Homo sapiens: one gene and its partners. The protein of the gene in region 1 purifies or fractionates together with the protein of each later gene. This does not show direct contact. Each region holds a gene or a part of one and is shown in the gene's direction. Other genes may lie near its edges.

Region 1 (3,650 bases):
CTGACCCTGGTGTGAGTATCACAGAGATGGAATCCCTCGGTATGGAATTGTTGGCTAGTGTGTGTGTAGTCCAAACGTGCACACCCCTCAGTGGGAGCAGGAGAGCCCAGGGAATGATGTACACTCTGTTACCCTCTGCTTGCGAGTGTTTTCTCCAGTGAATCCTTATTTTATATTTGCAGCGCTTGTGTTAGTGGAGCATCTTTGTGCCTACTTTGTACAACAGAGTGTGTGTTTGTGTGTATGTGTGTGAGAGAGAGAAAGTTTGAATAATAGAATCATGAGATGATGTTGGAAATATTATGAAGGGTCAAACCAAAGATTACATTTTCAAAGTTTTATTTTATTCAAAGAGCATTGGGAAGCTAATTGAAATCTATGTGCAAGGAAAGGAACTGGTCTGATTTTCTTTCTTTAAGGAGTTACTCTGGCTGTGGCATGGAAAACAAGTTACAGACAGGCAAGAGTGGAAACAGGAAGCCAGTTAGAACAGCAGCATCACATGGTCCAGGGGAGAAAAGAGAATAGCTTGAACTAGGATGTTGGCAGTGGAGATGGGGAGAAGTGAGCAGACATGAGACTTATTTTTGAGACAAAACTAAAAGGAATTATTTGTGAATGAGATGTGAGGGTAGAGGAAAAGAAGGAGATACTACATTGAAATAAGTTCCATCAGAAAAAAATTGATTAAACATTTAATCCAAGAAGTCAAATTATTCGACTGTTGAGCAGATGCTTACCCCTAAAATAAAATTTTAGGAACACTAGCAAAAAAATCCTGGTCAAAAATGCCTAAGCATTATTAGTAAGAGTTGTTCTTAATTGATCATAATAAAGTTATATTCCTCTGAATTAGTACTAGTCATATACACTTAATCTTTTTTAGAAAACATGAAGGACCTTCACACATCATAGCAGAATTCTTTTTTGTGTGTTTTTATTCATTAGTAATTCATTAGTTTTATTCATTAGCCATGAATGGCTCGTGTGAAGCTAAGGTAACTTTTAAAACACCCTACAAAGGCAAAGGTGTGACATAGAAATGACTAAATGCTTAATGTCCTTAATCATGAGTGAAACTGGTGCAGAGTGACTTTATTTTAGAAAATAATTAGACCCGTCCACTGTCTGCTTTGAGTTCCCTTTATAAAAGATAAATATGCAGTCTCAGAAGTTTTCTGGGCCCCTAAACAAATGACTTTAAAAGTGGAGAAGCAGAAAAGAAAAAACTTATAGAAAATAGAAGTTTATGGTACAGTTACCAGAACCTATTCCACCCTATTCCCACCAAAAGCCAAGTACATTTAATCCTTATTTTGCTTATATATGTTAAAATAGAGTCTGACAGAAACTGTGGAGACTCTTTTGTCTCCAGGCATCCTCCATGTCACGGGAATTAGGGAATCCTGAGTTACAAATGACCTATAGGGTGTTTTAAAAAATTATGTGGCTGGGCGCAGTGGCTCATGCCTGTAATCCCAGCACTTTGGGAGGTCGAAGGGAGCAGATCACTGGAGGTCAGGAGTTCAAGACCAGCCTGGCCAACATGACATGAAACTTATCTATACTAAACATACAAAAATTAGCCGGGCTGGTGGCTTGTGCCTGTAATCCCAGCTACTCATAAGGCTGAGGCACGAGAATTGCTTGAACCCAGGAGGCGGACATTGCAGTGAGCTGCAATTGTGCCACTGCACTCCAGCCTGGGTGACAGAGCAAGGCTCCATCTCAATAAATAAATAAATCATTATGGATTGTGTTAAAATTTCTCCCTCAGTTCACCCCATCACCAACAAAACTGAATTCTTCCAACATAAACCTCTAAGTACTCACATCTGTACTTGAAAAGGATGTCAACTTGCTGCCGGCATCTTTTGTTTTTGGTCTTATAAGTTATACAGAATTTAAATATTCTGCTAAGAAATTAGTAGACTCTGCAGGGGAGGAAAAAATTTTTTTTCTCCTATCTAGGTTCTTCGGCTGGGGCCTTATAAGTAAGACTGACAAAACACAAATCAACAAGAGAAAAACAAACATAAGTTTATGAGCATACGCATCATAAATACACATGGGAGCACTGGGAGATGAGTAACTCAAAGGTGTGGTTAGAAGTTAGGCTTACATAGCATCTCAGCTAAAGAATAATAATTTTTTTAGAGAAGTGACAAGACAAAGAAAAAGGACTTTGCATTTCTAGGGTGGGAAACTGTGGGAAAATAAATATTATGGACAAACTAATGGAAGATACAGACTAAAGTTGGTAAAAATTGTTATATAGATTCCTCTGGTGCCATCTCCAGGCGGAAAGGGTTTACAGTTGTCTCTGGTAATTTTACCTCGTCCTCCCTGGTAGAGAGGAGAGGAAGGCTACCCTTGCAAAGTTATCCTGTTTCTATGCAAATAATAGGGGGAAGACAGAGAGCTTTTCTTGTATCTGCTTTTTCTCAATTGCCTTCAGCTGGAAATAATCTTATGCCAAAGTGGCATGTTTAGGGGCAGCAGATTCTGCTACCTTAAAACTTCCTGGGTCCCTGTGCCAACTTCAAAAAGCAAAATGTGGATCTAAACATAGAAGGAGGGACACAAACTTTCTTTAGTTTGCTCACTTATGCGCTTATTTAGAAAGGGCTCTAACTAATTCCAAGGCTTGATTACATGATTGTTTCACAAAGATATTCTAATTCATTTAAAACAAATGAAAGGCATCATGCAGATATTCAGCCTTCAAAAGCCACTCTGCCTTGAGATGTTCCTAAGTGGTTACTGGGAGATGGACCACAGCTTTAGTCTAATATCGCCTACAAACCCACTGTTATTTAGAATTGCATGTTATCAATTGTATCCATAATTTGTATTATTGGAATAGAATTATATCTTTAACTATAGTCTAGGCAAATTTATATATTCTTCACGGCAAGCACAGACGTGTTTCAGCATGGCCAGTTAATTCTTTCAGCCTGGTCTACTGAGGATGGCTAGGACTGCTGTCCTAACACAAAAGAAACTGACAACAGCTAATTTCCTCTAATTGATTTGACTGTGTTACTCATGAAACAAGTGAATGATATTATTAAGTTAATAAGTTAACCATTTAATTTAGAATAAGGCCAGTGTCAAAAGTGACATAAAAGAAGTAATTCAAACAGTTTTATGGTCTCATATTACATGGCTACACAGTTTCACTCAGTCTCTGCCACAAAAAGCTGCAATGATTTCACCGTCTGAAAATGAAATTCATTTGTGTAAGAATATATCCATAAATACATATTCTGTTATATATTTATACAAAGGCTCTTGAAGGAAAGTGTTGTAAACATGCCTGAAAATTATAATGGCTTTACACCTAGTAAAATGTAAATGACAGCTTATCAATTTTGGTCAAAAGTTTTCTTGAGCCTATGGTAAAAATGTGAACGCGAGCAAAGAATCAATCCAGATCAATACGTCAGTTTAAAAGAAAAAAAGTGACTATTGACATATCTGCATTCTGTTTTTTACTTTTTACTTTTATTTCAATAGTAAATTTATGCATTTTCTTTCCCAAAATGATTTAAATATAAATCTGATTCCCCATCTATGTTTGCACCGTCATTCAGTAATTGCTGGTGCTTTTACAATTCACAGGCACATGAAAATCTTCAACAGCCCCA
Region 2 (4,351 bases), about 56 Mb from region 1:
CTCTTGAGAAATGTCCCCTGTAGACGCCAGTCTCTCCCTGGGTTTGAGTCCCAGCTCTGTCATTAGCTTCTGTGACCTCTCTGGGCCTCAGATTGGCTCTCTGTGAAGAGAGGGTTCTGAAGATACCCCTGCCTGCCTCCATGCTGCCTCCTGGACCCCAAGATGGCCCCCACACCAGGCAGCACTCCCTGGCCAAGCCTGCTAATGCTCGTCCTTGTGCCTGCAGATTCCATGTACATCGAGGATCTAGAGGCTGTCCAGAAGCTGCAGGACCTGCTGCACGAGGCACTGCAGGACTACGAGCTGAGCCAGCGCCATGAGGAGCCCTGGAGGACGGGCAAGCTGCTGCTGACACTGCCGCTGCTGCGGCAGACGGCCGCCAAGGCCGTGCAGCACTTCTATAGCGTCAAACTGCAGGGCAAAGTGCCCATGCACAAACTCTTCCTGGAGATGCTGGAGGCCAAGGTGTGATGGCCCCGCACACGGACCAATGCCCACCTACAGACAGACAAACGGACAGACCGAGGTGGAGACCTCCACAGCCACCAGCCTCCACCTTCAACCCCTGTATCATGGCTCTGAGCTGTCCCAGAGGCGGGGGTTTCTCACCTCCTGGCTGTGTGCAGACTCCCGGGTGCAGTGGGGTGGGGGACGGGGATGGGGGGGCAGGGGTGTGGGGCTCGACTGTAACTGGCTTTTTCTTTGGTATGTCTTTCCTTCTCCATGGACGGTGCGGAGGCCTGGGCCAGGGCTGACTCCCTTCAGGAGTGGAGGCCACTGGAGCAAGTGCCCTCTCCCCTCCACCGAGCCACCAAGAGGCAGCATGTGCATTTCCTAACTCCCTTGCCCCCTCCCCCATCTGTGGCCTGGGTGGGCACTGCTCAGGCTGGATACCACCTGGAGGTTTTCCTTCCGCAGAGGGCAGGTACGCAAGGGACAACAGTATCTTTCTTCCAGAGGTCCTACCTGCTCTGAGATCCTCTGGGGCCGGTCAAGAGGCCCCATACCTTCCACAGTTTCCACTCAGCTTTCAGCCAGGGGGTACCCACAGGAGAGCAGCGGCTAGAGCTCAAGTGCTTCCTGGGCACCCCACCCCTCGGGGCCTACCCCCCTGCCTGTCACCCACCGCGCCGGTGTCCACCTGTCCTCCTCCTCTTCTCCTCCCCCCGGGAGTCCCCCGCTACTTCCTGACCCTACCTCAGAGCTCACTCACCCAGTGGGTTCAGCCAGCCACAGCGACTCCAGGGGCTGTAGACAGGAACGCGCTGGCACAGAGAAGAGCGGGGACCACACCATCCTCCCAAGAACCCTCTCCCTCTTCCTGCCTTCCCCCTCTCCCTGAAGGGCAGGTCCAGGCCAAGTGAGCCTGTGAGAAGCTCAGGAGCCTGGCTCCATCCAAGAGCACCCCGGGGGGAGGATCAGGACAGGATGGACAGAGGCCCAGACTCATCTTTGCCAAGCACAGAAAGGCCGAGCAGCTGAGATAAGTAGGCAGGGGAGCCCCAAAGGGAGGGAACTCAGCGGGGTGGCCTGCCTCATCCTTCCTGGCTTCCCTTCCCTGCACTCAGCATCATGCCACAGGGCTAGTGTACCAGTGCCACAGGAGGGGTGCCCTCCTACCACACTTGGGCTACCAGAGGTTTGGTGTAGCTCCCCTGGGCACCGCGAGCACGCCAGCTCTCTGGCAGGACCCCTGCAGTCCCCCTGGCTGTGCCAGGTAACCAACCGTCTTGGTTTGTCCAGGACGTTTCTTTATCCCAGGAAACTCCTCTACCCCAGGCACACGGGGACAGTGGGTCACTCTATTTCTGTGGATGGCCGTGAAAGTTTTCACTAACTCAAGGGGCAGCCCTGAACACCCATTTGTGCTCACAGGTTGGCCAAGAGCAGCTTAGAGGATCTCCCAAGGATGAAAGAATGTCAAGCCATGATGGAAAATGCCCCTTCCAATCAGCTGCCTTCACAAGCAGGGATCAGAGCAACTCCCCGGGGATCCCCAATCCACGCCCTTCTAGTCCAACCCCCCTCAATGAGAGAGGCAGGCAGATCTCACCCAGCACTAGGACACCAGGAGGCCAGGTAACTTTCTGCAGCTTTTCCATAGAAGCCCTGGTCCCACCTCCTTGGCTCTACCCCAGGAACCTCCCGGCCTGGGCTTCTGGGCTGGGACGTGCTGAGGTCATCCCAGACAGGAGGGAGGGCTGGCTGAAATCCACAAACTGCAGAGCAGCTCTCTGATGGTGTCCCACACAGAAAATGTTAAGGATTTCAAGAGCCCTCCCAGACCAGTGATGTGTCCCTCCGGCTCCCCTTGCCTGTGGGGAATCGGGTCTGAGTCACTTGATGAGTAGGCACTGGAGCCGTTACCCAGGATGCTGCGGCCCTAGCCCTCCATGCAGCCCATCTTCCCTCATTTGGGTGGAGGCACACATTTGGGGCAAAGGCCCCTTCTTGGCATCAAGGAACACCAGCTACAAACCAAGTCTAGCACAGTGTTTAGAGGCTCTGCCCTGAGGTTCTGCTCCGGAGAAACCTTCACAGTAGAGACCTTGGGGTGTGTGCTTTGGGACTCCCTCAGTCTCTCACTGTGCTGTGTCCTTGCAGCGGGGCCGAGGTAGCACCCTGCTCTGTCACTTCCTGCTCAAGCTGGAGGACCCAGGCGGCAGGGCATCATGCCCAGCTGGCATCTGCTGTCTGTCTTTTCTAGGGAAAGCATCTCTGGCTCACCATGTAACATCTGGCTTGGAGCAAGTGGGTGTTCTGCACACCAGGCAGCTGCACCTCACTGGATCTAGTGTTGCTGCGAGTGACCTCACTTCAGAGCCCCTCTAGCAGAGTGGGGCGGAAGTCCTGATGGTTGGTGTCCATGAGGTGGAAGCTGCTTTTATACTTAAAACTCAGATCACAACAGGAAATGTGTCAGTAACAATGGAACTCCATCCAATGGGAAAGTTCCTGGTACTGAAGGGGTCCATTGGACACTCAGAAAAGAAGTTCAGGGGCCAACTTCTTAGCTGGAATCCTGGCCAGATGAGGACCCTCTCCGGGGAAGGGAGAGGACTGACTTAGTGGAAGGTGGTGAAGTGAGGAGAGTTTAGGGGAACCTTCCCCCAGTGGAACAGATCTCAAGTTTACCCTAAACCTGCCATTTCTGGAAAATCTGTAAAGAGGAAACAGCCTGTCTCAGCTGTACTCTCATGATACAGGTCATTTGAAATGAACCAAGAAATAAAACATGAAAATCCAACCATGGAGAAGGTGGTATGGCTGGGTTTTGTTTGGTCCCCTTGTCCTTATACGTTCTAAAGTTTCCAGACTGGCTTTGTCACTTTGTGAACTCGTCATGTGTGAAAACCAATCTTTGCATATAGGGAACTTCCTCGGGCCACACTTTAAGAACCAAGTAAGAGGCTCTCAAGACTCCAGCAGAGTCGGGAGGCCATGGCAGCGCCTTAGAGGAGCTGGAACCTGCACCCACCTGTGTCGGTGGGGGGGGCCTCCTTTCCCCATAGACTCTGCCCTCCCTCTGTGCAGATGGAAGTGGCAGGGGAGGGTGACCAGCTTGTGACAAGAAGACTGAAGGGTCCAGAGTCCATGCTCACGGAACAGCACCAAAGAAAAGCACTATGTGGAAAGATTGTTTTATTTTCTAATAATGATAATATGGCTGGAATGGCTTCTTAAGATGTATATATTTTTTAAAATGGCAGTTCCCCATTGCAGCATCACCTACTTGTATGTCTTTCTGCCTCTGTATATGTTCTCCCAGAAACCCCCATGTAAATCAAATGCCCTAGGATGCTTCCATCCTGGTCCCATGTATCTGGAATCTAATAAATAAGGAAAGGAACTATTGAGTTTCTTCACACATTGTCTTTCTGGGCTGACTGTCCCCCAGACAGCACTGCCCTTGGGTTTCAGGCTGAGGCTAGGAGAGGCCGTTGGGAGAGGCAACCCAGCCTTAGTGTTCCCTGGGAAGTCCCATGGTGTCATTTTAAAACATGTTCACCAGCAAAGCTCAGGAATGCAACTGGAGAAGTATGCTGCAGGTCTGAGAAGCTCCCTGTTGCTTTTATGCTTTTAATATTAATGGTAAGGCAATCGATTACTTTCATTAATGCCAGAGAAATGAGATATCAGATATATGTGAATGAAAACCAATTCATTACCTTAGGATTTTGAATTGCATCTGTGACACACACAACACCGGATAGCACAGCCCACATGTTATTCCAGGACACACTCAGGACCAGTGAGAAGCAGAGGGGAGGGCCTGAAAGAGATCAAAGAAGACATTTCAAGATGCCTTTTGTTTCAAGTAAAAGTTACCTTAGCTTATACTGGCTTACTG
Region 3 (3,650 bases), on another chromosome or scaffold:
CAAGTTGCTTAATCTGTCTATATCTCAGTTTCTTCATCTGTAATATGGAGGTAATGATGGTATCTACCTTCACAGGTTGTTACAAGGATTAAATAAGCTAATAGATATAAGGTGTTTAGAAGAGTGTCTGGTTCAGGCTGGGCATGGTGGCTCACGCCTGTAATCCCAGCACTTCGGGAGGCTGAGGCAGGTGGATCATGAGGTCAGGAGTTCAAGACCAGCCTGGCCAATATGGTGAAACCCCGTCTCTACCAAAAATACAAAAATTAGCTGGGCATGGTGGCGCACACCTGTAGTCCCAGCTCCTAGGAGGCTGTGGCAGGAGAATCGCTTGAACCCGGGAGGTGGAGGTTGCAGCTGAGATTGTGCCACTGTACTCCAGCCTGGGTGACAGAGTGAGACTTCATCTCAAAAAAAAAAAAAAAAAAGAATATCTGGTTCAAAGATACTCCCCAGCAAATTAATTCACATTTATTATGTTTTATCTTTCTGAGAATGTATAACAAGTGGTATATGAAAAGAAAAAAATGGGCAAAAGTTTATTAAGTATTACATTTCTATTTGTTATGTTAACAGCAACAGGATAAGGAATACCAGGTGTATGTTAGGACTGGAAAAGCCAGGCATTATTAAGAGGTTAGAGTAGGAAGCAGGTCAGACATCTGGAAGGTCAAAGCAAGAGTTGAGGAGTATGCAGGATAGAAACATTAATGATATCAGAAACCAGTTATGCAAGCTGAAGTTCATTAATTCTGTCAACAAATAGATGTGAAATGCCTAATGTGTACTGAGCACTCTGCCAGGCACAAGAGACTAGTGATGAAGTAGACACAGTTTCTACCTACGTGGGACTTAGCAGTCTGGAGGAGAAGGCAAACATTAAGTCATCTTATAAATAACAATTGTAGTAAGTGCTCCAAAGAAGATGAATAGGACATCACCTGAAGCATCAAGTTCAGTGAAGCTTCAGGTAGGTATCAAAAGGGTCAGGCAGAAAAGTAAGCAGGTCAAGACACCAACAATCAGATGTAATAATATAAAGCTGACTCCTAACTGAGGTTCCACTTAGCTAAGGCTTCTTTGCTACCTCTATAAGGGGAGGAAATGATTCCAGGATGTGGGTACTAGGTAGGTAGGGTAGAGAAGTGATTGTGCTTGGCAAAAGAGTATGAGAATATGCTGACAGGTTCTGTTCTAGTTCTCTTAGCAGATTTTGTTATTAGCTCATTTGAAATCACTCTTGTTCTTTGTTGTACATTTCACTCTAAGCATTGGCTGAGATCCATTGTAGACTATATTGGCCAGAGAGTTCAATGAATTACTTTTGGGGACAGTCTTAACATATTTAATGCCAGAATATTTCCCACACAACGAATATTTACTTTCAAATATTATAATGACAGTTATGATAGCTAAAGAAGACTCCAAACTTTATACTTGAACAGAGGTCTTGATTTGTTTTCCTCCATAATTCTCAAATTCTCTTTTATTATTGACTATGGGTCTTGTGTCTTGACTTTTTAAAATTAAATGTTTATTTTGACATAATTGTAAATTCACATGTAGTTGTAAGGAATAATATTTAGATCCTATATACCCCTTACCCAGTTTCTCCCAATGAGTAACATCTTGTAAAACTGTAGCATAAAATCACAGTAGGACACTGACATTCAAAATAGAGGCCTTGACTTTTAGGTCAATAGTAACATTTTGAACCCGATAAGCATAGCCACACCCATATCTCTTCTCCAATCAGCAGGGCCTATATTAAGAAGCCTCCTGTACTCTCTTCTTTCCACAAATGCTTATTTAGCACCTCCACGCTATCAAGTGCTGTGCTATTGAGCGCTGGATGTTGCCATCTCTTGAGATATAATCCTAATTATACCATTACTGTAGTTTGAAAACCTCCATGGTTTTGCAATAATAACCTTTCCTTAAAGTCCTGATTAACCATGAAAGTAATAATGTTTCTCCTGAGCAAGTAACTGAATGCTACTGAATTATGGGCAGATAAGGTTGTTAATTGTTACAAACTCTCCTTTTTTATTTTTAGATTGTCAAAGAATTCCAAAGAATTGATGTGAATGTGTATTTTGCATCACTTCAAGGTAAATACATATATCTACATATCTACCTGTAAGACTTTCCCGTAAGCCCTTTCTCCTATCTGGGACTGTGGTCACATTATGTCTGAAGGCCTTTTTTTTTTTTCTTTTAAAGATCTCAATTGTCATTATTTGCAGTTCTGGAATCTGGCACTGCTTCATTCCATAAAACAGAATAAGTGTTCCAAGGAACTAAGCAGGAGTTCAGTATTATACACAGAAAAGGCCAAAGACAGCAAAAGCAAGCAACAAAGAGTATATTAGTCCATTCAAAGTTACTTTCTTGTAAGTCAGAGACAGTGAGACAGAACAATAGGAAAATAATGGATTAGTTAACATGAGGTCATGTCAGGATACTTTTTTGTATGAGGATTATTGCAGAGGAAGCTTTATTATTATGCCAACTGGAAATTTAAACTGTCCTGTTTTAGGAAATTTGCTATTACCTCTCTCTCCTGATTTCTTCAAGTATCAGATAACAATTTAGTTTAGGTTTGATAACTTGAAACTTTAGCATGAGTGACTCCATTTTGATTTTTAGTCTTGTCTGTTGTCGTCTAGTGCGGGAGCTTAGTCTAAAACAATGGCCTTTTATTTTTATTTTTTATTTTACTATGTGCCTGTGCCTTGCATGACCCCAGGATGGGCACAGCTGCTTGGCCCCTGAGCCACCGAAGGCTGCTCTACTCCTTCGTTCTGGCTACTAAAAGCTGCAAAGCTCTGGGAGGGCAAAGCTCAAGAAGACTAAAACAATGGCCTTTACCATTTTTGTTTGATGATTTTCCCCGTTTTGATCAGGCTCTCACCTAGGTAAGAGTGAACAAAATGTAGGAGATCAGTGCTACTCTGTTACCATCATTTTGGGTTTCTGGTCTCAGGAGGTCATGTGTAGCTTATGGTGCCCTCCTCATTATCATGTATGTCTCTGAGTTTTTGTTGTTTCAGAGAGAGACCATTCGATGTCTGACAGGTGGCTTTTTGGAAACATTTAAAACTTTGAGAGGGTATAATGTACCAGGAAGACTGCTATTATGACTATCAGGGAGATAATACCAAGGGTTTATAGTATGCTCCTTAGCCAGGATTCTCATGAATCAAACCAACTAAAATTGAATAGCCTGACAAGGAGACTACCTGTTTTAACCAAGAAGTCTTCTCTGTAGTACCTGATGTATTTATATATGTGGAACAAGAAGTGTCACCCAACTGCACAGATGCTTCCTTGTTGAGTTAGCAGGTAATCTAGCATTCCATGACTGGTTAAATTAAAGCAGAAAGTGTAAGTTACCCAAAGAAGCTACTCATTGTGAAGTTTTAACTACAGCACTATCCTGCCAAGTGAAAGAGGTAGGCACAAGTAAGGGAAAATTAAAAGGGATAAGCATCTTATGATAGGGAGTCTTGTTCTGACAGTCTTGGAGCTGTCTACAGCATGAAGTTGACAACTTCTTGTTTTGGTTTGTAGTTTTATTGTCTCTAGTTGTGGCATCCAGCATTCTGGCGAACTCTCTATGTGGCCCACAGTTTAAGCATGAGATTCAT

What was found.
Region 2: the proteins of OR11G2 (region 1) and ESRRB purify together in Homo sapiens (affinity purification with mass spectrometry; one large-scale study listed by BioGRID and IntAct). This does not show direct contact.
Region 3: the proteins of OR11G2 (region 1) and SLC26A4 purify together in Homo sapiens (affinity purification with mass spectrometry; one large-scale study listed by BioGRID and IntAct). This does not show direct contact.

The regions. Positions count from the first base shown.
Region 1 is NC_000014.9:20,193,810-20,197,459, forward strand, and holds part of OR11G2 (olfactory receptor 11G2), read left to right. Parts: intron 1-3,624; 5' UTR 3,625-3,628; coding exon 3,629-3,650. UniProt on the Homo sapiens protein: Odorant receptor.
Region 2 is NC_000014.9:76,497,988-76,502,338, forward strand, and holds the end of ESRRB (steroid hormone receptor ERR2), read left to right. Parts: intron 1-226; coding exon 227-471; 3' UTR 472-738; coding exon of another isoform or gene 739-975; 3' UTR 976-1,875; coding exon of another isoform or gene 1,876-2,238; 3' UTR 2,239-2,707; coding exon of another isoform or gene 2,708-2,734; 3' UTR 2,735-3,850; downstream 3,851-4,351.
Region 3 is NC_000007.14:107,702,275-107,705,924, forward strand, and holds part of SLC26A4 (pendrin), read left to right. Parts: intron 1-2,056; coding exon 2,057-2,111; intron 2,112-3,650. UniProt on the Homo sapiens protein: Sodium-independent transporter of chloride and iodide. Mediates electroneutral chloride-bicarbonate, chloride-iodide and chloride-formate exchange with 1:1 stoichiometry. Mediates electroneutral iodide-bicarbonate exchange.